Homo sapiens: one gene and its partner. The protein of the gene in region 1 purifies or fractionates together with the protein of each later gene. This does not show direct contact. Each region holds a gene or a part of one and is shown in the gene's direction. Other genes may lie near its edges. The genes, in order: ASCC3 and CGAS.

Region 1 (3,824 bases):
TGTGCTCGTTTCATCTTTGTGGGATATTCTGGAATTTTCTTTCTGACTATGCTTGTCCTTATCTGGTGTTAAAATATTTTTTTTTATTTGTTTTCCCAAGGACATTTAAAGGAAAAGCCTTCCTTACCCTGTGCTAAAAGTAAAATTAACACAACTTTGGGGGGGAATATTCTGAATATAAAGACTAATCTGCTTTATAGTTATGAGCCTGTCCAGGATTTTTTTCCCCCACCTTTGAATGGGAAACCTAGTTAGAGGATAAGTTAGAGAATAAGAGCCCCATAGAAATTTGGTTGTTTTTAACCATTATATATTTTGTATTGTGTGAAAAGTGTTTATGTGTTTTATTATTTTTGTCATGCTTTCTCTGTTCTGCATGCTTCAGATGTGTTTCCTAACTTGATTGAGAACTATTCAGGAGCAATTGCTTCTTGCTTAAGAATGAGTTAGCATCTAAAGTGAACTTGTTAGGTGGAAACTGTGAATAGCTAAGATTACCTTTGAGAATCCCTTAAAAGGACATCAAGTTGGCATAACATGCTGTCTCTCAGCATGTCCTACACAGCCATGTTTTTCATCCTGACTTGGAATGTATCACAGTTTCTTTAGATGAACTCCCAGTGAAAAAGTTGCTCTGTGTTTGGTCACCACCTTGTATGTTTTTTAAAAAAAGAGAAAAAGTGTTAAAAACTAGAATCATGCAATGCAGCAAGATGCTCACATTTTGAGATGCATGTGGTGATTGAAACAGACTAAAAGAGCAAGATTCTTGTTGCCCATCCCCCATTCACTCTGGAGCAGATATTCAATACCTGAAATGGTAAGCAGAATCTCTAGTAATTATTGTTTTTGTCTGTCTCTGCCTTCCTTTTTTTGGCCTACAGTGTTTGGTAGATTCAAGAAAGTTAAATGTGCCTAGACTCTGCTGTATGAACCAATTGATGGTAATAAGGTTTAATACAAGTAAGAAATTAAATTATCTTTAGGATTTATCATGAAAAAATCACCCCCTTTTGAAATCGCATAATGGAGGATTATAAATATGTGTCGACGATGGTTATTTTCTGAGTTCTGATCTTGCTAATGTTAACAATATCACAACTCAATTTTTAAAAAAGGCACAATAAAATATAAATATTCTTATTCACTGTTTAATATTTATTCACTGTTCATTTTTCAAGGTGTGGTTTGTGGGTACAAGATTCTATTTTAAGTACTGAAATCTTAAATTCTAATTTTACTCCATTTACAACCTACTCCTTCATGTCAGTGTTTTTATCCCTTAATCTGCAGTATATCACTTTGACTATTTTTGTCCCTTTAATAATTCCCTAGTATCCATAATTGCCAGTAACTAAGTGCTGACTTTAAACTTATTAGGAAATATAGTTTGGCTGTTTTGGAGATCTTTTCATATTTTTATAACGAAAAAATACAGTAACTATCTTTTCCTAAAGTTGCTATCAAGCAGTCAGACCATCTTTAGAGTTTAGAAACACAGGTTTGGTTTAAGAAGAATAAACATTACAATTTTAAATGTAGTACTTCAGAATAGTGTGTACTGGAATTCTAGCTCACTGATTATTGGTTAATATCATCTTGCAAAAGGAAATATGCTACCATCAGTTTAGTTTTCTCCTTATTTGGAATGTAAAAAAGGACAGTTACATTTTTAAGACTTTCTTTTTACCTGTACGTATGTTTAATTAACAATTTAAAGATTTGTTCAGATAGCCACAGCCAGTACTTCTGACGAACAGAAGTAGGCTTTTAGGGTTTCAATCCTTTAGAAATTATATTTGTTCTGGGGCATTAAATATTTATTATTAACAGAATTTTTCATTTATATATTTGTCATTTAGTGGACCATATTAAATGTGGAGTAAAAATTAGTAAGGTAAAAATTGATATGTAGGCCAGTTTTTCTTAATCCTTATTCACTGTGATCTTACCAGAAATTTTAACTATGAATGTTATGATTCATCTTTAAGACCTCCTAGTTGAACATCTTTTCCTTTCATCTAGGCCTAAAGTTAAGCACTTAATAACCCTTATCATTTAGGCTTCATTGTCCCACTGCCTCTGTGTTACAAAACCTTAACCCTGGTTCACACCAACCTTTGTTCCTATGCCAGATTATTGCCACCTTAAATTGTTTGCAGTATGAGCTGAGCATTCATTGCTACCTGAAAAATATTTCTTCTATTATTGTGGGTGGTAAGTTCAGACTTTTGCCTCTGTGTTAGAAAAAATCCCACCTCATCACCTGTTTGAACAGTCTTAGCATATCTCAAATAAAATCAGAGTCATTTTGGTGGAACTCCCTTTTACCATGTTTTTCTCTCCTCATTCACCCTCTGCTTAACCATGTTATAACCATATGCACTTCCACTCATCCTTCCTTCCGTACTCCTTCATCTATCCAAGTCTCTCTAGACCTATGCTTTTGTTGTCATTCTCGCCTGCATTCTCAGAGACCCTACTCCATCAGTCACAGTCTTTCTCCTGATTGCTCAACTTTTCCTTCTCTCTTTGCTCTCCCCTGATTATGATAAAATCATGATCAACTCTATCCTTTATTTTCAGAAACTCTTAAACCACATTATTTCAGTATTTCCTACTTTTTCTCCTTTTCTTTCTCATTTTCTTGAAAGAATAGCATGTACCCATTTGTAGGGTTTTTTGTTTGTTTGTTTGTTTTTTCCCTATTTTCTCCCTTTGCGTTTATCCTTCAACTCACTGAGATTTAGCTTCTACCATTTTTGGAAACTAGGTGTGCTAGTCATCTAGGACCGCAGAGTGGCTGAGTACAGTGGACTGTATCATGTCATTTGAAACTTTCTTTTCTGTTGTCATATCACTTTTCCATATGACAACTGATTTGTGGATCACTTTCTTAGAACTCTGTTCTTAACTCTCTACTGTCTACTTCCAAGAGGCCTTTAGGGGTGGAGTGCATGAATGGGCATTCATGCAGCTTTTGAAATGGAGTACAAAATGTTGTTTATATGTATGTATGTCTGTTTTCTTAGGAAGAGGGTCCATGGGCTTATGTATATTTGACTTAGACAATATTATGTTCATCCATGGTTTTAACTATGATGAAGTGATAACATGAAATTCTGGATTTCCAGCCCAGACCTCTGATAGGAAATCCAAAACCATATGCCCCACTTGATAGCCCATAATTAAAGTTTTCCAAAACAGAATTATCATTCCTCTTCCTGATGCCCTCTATACATATAGACTCCTCCACTCTTCAACATTTCCTAAGCCAGAAATTTGAGTGTCCTGCTCCTTTCTCCTTCTTTAAATCCTATTCCACATTGATTCTGTCTTCCAAGTATACTGATCTCCTAAATCCATCCTTTTATGTGTTTCCCTGGCTTAATTCTATCCTCTCTGTCTTTCAGTTGGTTTATTGAAATAACTTCCCAACTGGTTTGCCTGTGTCCTGTTTGACCCCACCTTGACAGTTCACCACATGTAAATCTGAGTAATTTTTCTGTAACATGTTAGTATTTTTTCAGTGATTCTGATTATCAGAATGAAAAGTGCCTAATTTGAGACATGTTGTTTGGTCTCTGCTTACATTTTTAGGTCTTATTTCATCAGTTTCCAAATGCACATTCTGTAGGGGTTTTAAAAGTAATTAAGTCTGTTATTTTGGCTTTCCCCCTCATAGTTTACCTCTTGTAATAACCTTGTCTAGGTCCTTTAAGTCTCAGCTCAAGCTCAGCTTCCTTCTTTATATCTAGTGCCCTCCCACCCCTTTAGATGCTCCTTCCCTGTCTTCCTACAGTTATAGCTGCATAATTATTGCA
Region 2 (3,824 bases), about 27 Mb from region 1:
CCAGAGGGTATATATAGACATTATGAATCTTGCTTTTTAAAGTAAAGTTTTAAGTGGAAATTTTTTAAAAAGTTCCAGTCACTTGGAAAATATTCATAAGCAAATATTTCAGTACTATTTTTACTGTTTCTTAGATTTCTGCACCTAATGAATTTGATGTCATGTTTAAACTGGAAGTCCCCAGAATTCAACTAGAAGAATATTCCAACACTCGTGCATATTACTTTGTGAAATTTAAAAGAAATCCGAAAGAAAATCCTCTGAGTCAGTTTTTAGAAGGTGAAATATTATCAGCTTCTAAGATGCTGTCAAAGTTTAGGAAAATCATTAAGGAAGAAATTAACGACATTAAAGGTAAGACTTTTGCCTTTTGATTCTTAAAGGTTTAATTATACCTAGTAATTGCCAATGTACACTCCCATTCTCATGTTTCTTGACCTCTCTGCAGTAAGAAAAAGTGCAGTAGAGAGGTCAAGAAACATCAGTAGAGGAGTGTACATTGGCAATTACTTATAATATGATTACAAGATTATAAAGTACAGAAGGGTAGAGGTCTTTATCTATTTGTTCTCTAATGAATCCTAAATAACTAGAACACCTACACATTAGATAATCAATGAATATTGATTAAATTAAATGATTAAATTATATGAAATAATCAATGAATATTTATTAAATTGATGGATAAATGAATCTACACTCTCTGCCTAGGTATTTCATCCATTCCCAATGCCACCTATATGATGATGACTCCCAAATGTTTACTTGCAGCCCAAATATATCCTTTGCACTCCAAACCTATATCCAGCTACGTCCTTAACATATCCACTTTGATGTTGATGTACCACAGGAATCTATAACCAAACATATCCAAAGCGAATAAACATAACTTAATTCATATACCAAACTATGTTTTGCCTCAGTCCTTCCCATCTCAGAAAATGGCACAATCAATCCACCCAGACGCACCATCCAGAAACCTGGGAACCATCTTAATTTAATCCTCTCTGTTACCCCCTACGCTTAATCCAGATGCAAGTGCTGCTACAGCTTGGACCTGTCTGCTGCTTCAATCCCAGCACCCTACTCCCACCCCACCTAAGCTGCCACCATCTTTTACCTGAACTATTACATCATTTTCCTTTCTAATCTCCCTATTTGCCTTCTTATAATATCTGTCCTTAGAAGCCAGAGTAAATGTTTTAAAATACAAAGCCAGTCATTACTCTCTGATGAAAACCTGGCTTCTCAATGATCAGATAATAAAATCTGGTGCCAGGCGCAGTGGCTCACACCTGTAATCCCAGCACTTTGGGAGGCTGAGGTGCGTGGATCACCTGAGCTCAGGAGTTTGAGACCAGCCTGGCCAACATGGAGAAACCCCATCTCTACTAAAAATACAAAAATTAGCCGGGTGTGGTGGCACATGTCTGTAATCCCAGCTACTTGGGAGGCTGAGGCAGGAGAATTGCTTCAACCTGGGAGGCAGAGGTTGCAGTAAGCCGAGATCGGGGCATTGCACTCCAGCCTGAGTGACAAGAGCGAAACTCCATCTCAAAATAAAATAAAATTAAATTAAATTAAATTAAAATCTGGCCAGGCGCAGTGGCTCACACCTGTAATCCCAGCACTTTGGGAAGCTGAGGTAGGTATATCACGAGGTCAGGAGTTCAAGACCAGCCTGGCTAAGATGGTGAAACCCCATCTATACTAAAAATACAAAAATTAGCCAGGCGTGGTGGTGGATGCCTGTAATCCCAGCTACTCGGGAGGCTGAGGCAGGAGAATCGCTTGAACCCGAGAGGTGGAGGTTGCAGTGAGCCGAGATCGTGCCACTGCACTCCAGCCTGGGCGACAGAGCAAGACTCCGTCTCAAAAATAAAATGAAATCTAAAGTCCTTTTCAGGGTCTACAAGTCAGTACAGAATCTGGTCCCTGGCTGCCTCTTCAGCTTCATTTCATATAACTTCATCTTTTCCGAAAGAGTCTCTTTTTGTTCCTAGATCTTTCCAAGCTCTTTTTTTCTGCCTCAGGGCTTGGCTCCACCACCCCATTCCACCCTAATTGCTATCACTTTTCCCAGTTTATTCCCTTCAGAGCACTCACTGCAATTTGTGTTGTATGTTATTACGCTATTAGATTAAGAGCTTTATCTTGCAAGCACAGACGTACAATTAATAACAAATGGAAAAAATGATTATCTTGTATACTGGAAAGTAGTAAGTGCTGTTGTGAAGAAGTATAGCAAAGTGAGAGGGATCAGGAATGTGGGAGATGGAGGTGGGGGGGAAGTTGCAATGTTAAGTAGAGTGGTAAGAAGAGAATTCCATTAGAGTTTGGGAAGAGCCAGGCGCCGTGGCTCACGCCTGTAATCCCAACACTTTGGGAGGCCGAGGCGGGTGGATCACGAGGTCAGGAGTTCAAGACCAGCCTGGCCAAGATGGTGAAACCCCGTCTTGACTAAAAATACAAAAAACTAGCCGGGCGTGGTGGCGGGTGCCTGTAATCCCAGCTACTTGGGAGGCTGAGGCAGAGAATTTCTTGAACCCAGAAGGCGGAGGTTGCAGTGAGCTGAGACCGCGCCACTGAACTCCAGCCTGGGCGACAGAGTGAGACCCTGTCTCAGAAAAAAAAAAAAAAAAAAAAGAGTTTGGGAAGAAGAGAATGAACAAAAGGAGACTATGAGTGTTTTGTAGAAGGAGCGGTCAGTGTTTGGAATGCTACTGACATCCAGAAATCCAATGGATTTGTTCTTTGGTCTTGTGGGGTTGACAAGAGAAATGTCAGTGGGGTGATGGACACAGAGTGAAAAGGCAGGGTTGCAGTGGAGATAACATGTGTAGGCCACTCTAGAAAGTTCTGTCTGGGCTAACTGTGGTGTCTCAGCACTTTGGGAGGCCAAGGCAGAAGGATTGCTTGAGCCCAGGAGTTCAAGACCAGCCTGGGCAACAAAGTGAGAGTCCATCTCTACAAAAAAAAATTTTAGGCCAGGTATGGTGGCTCATGCCTGTAATCCCAGCACTTTGGGAGGCCAAGGTGGGCGGATCACAAGGTCAGGAGTTCAAGACCAGCCTGGCCAAGATGATGAAACCCCGTCTGTACTAAAAATACAAAAATTAGCCAGGCGTGGTGGCAGACACCTATAATCATAGCTACTCAGGAAGTTGAGGCAAAAGAATTGCTTGAGCCTGGGAGACAGAGGTTGCAGTGAGCTGAGATTGCGCCACTGCACTCCAGCCTGAGCGACAGAGCAAGACTGTCTCAGAAAAAAAAAAAAAAAAAAAGAAAGAAAAAAGAAAAAAACATTTTTTTAATTAGCCAGGAGTGGTGGCATGTGCCTGTGGTCCCAGCTACATACGATGCTGAGGCAAGAGGATTGCTTGAACCTAGGAGGTTGAGGCTGCAGTGAGCCATGTTCACGCTACTGCACTCCAGCCTGGGTGACAGAACGGGACCCTGTCTCAAAAAAAAAAAAAAGTTTGGGCTGGAAGGAAGCAGAAAGATGGGTGAGTATGGAGAGGAGGAAGATGTGGGGTGAAAGGAGAGGTATACCCTATAACCCTTTGTATGAATTTCAGAATAATCTAGCAGGGAGGGAGAGATGGCTGATGTAGGAGAGGAAATACTTGAAGAGCATGGTACTTGAGAAGTTGAGAAGGAAGGGATCCAGAGACTATGGGCAGAGGTGGCCTTTGAAAGGTAGATGGAGGGCCAGGCACAGTGGCTCACACTTGTAACCCTAGCACTTTGGGAGGCCAAGGTAGGCAGATCATTTGAGCTCAAGAGTTCAAGACCAGCCTGGCCAACATGGTGAAACCCTGTCT

Evidence for each region.
Region 2: the proteins of ASCC3 (region 1) and CGAS purify together in Homo sapiens (affinity purification with western blotting; one study listed by BioGRID). This does not show direct contact.

What each region holds. Positions count from the first base shown.
Region 1 is NC_000006.12:100,874,737-100,878,560, reverse strand, and holds part of ASCC3 (activating signal cointegrator 1 complex subunit 3), read left to right. Parts: intron 1-3,824. UniProt on the Homo sapiens protein: ATPase involved both in DNA repair and rescue of stalled ribosomes. 3'-5' DNA helicase involved in repair of alkylated DNA: promotes DNA unwinding to generate single-stranded substrate needed for ALKBH3, enabling ALKBH3 to process alkylated N3-methylcytosine (3mC) within double-stranded regions.
Region 2 is NC_000006.12:73,442,058-73,445,881, reverse strand, and holds part of CGAS (cyclic GMP-AMP synthase), read left to right. Parts: intron 1-134; coding exon 135-354; intron 355-3,824. UniProt on the Homo sapiens protein: Nucleotidyltransferase that catalyzes the formation of cyclic GMP-AMP (2',3'-cGAMP) from ATP and GTP and plays a key role in innate immunity.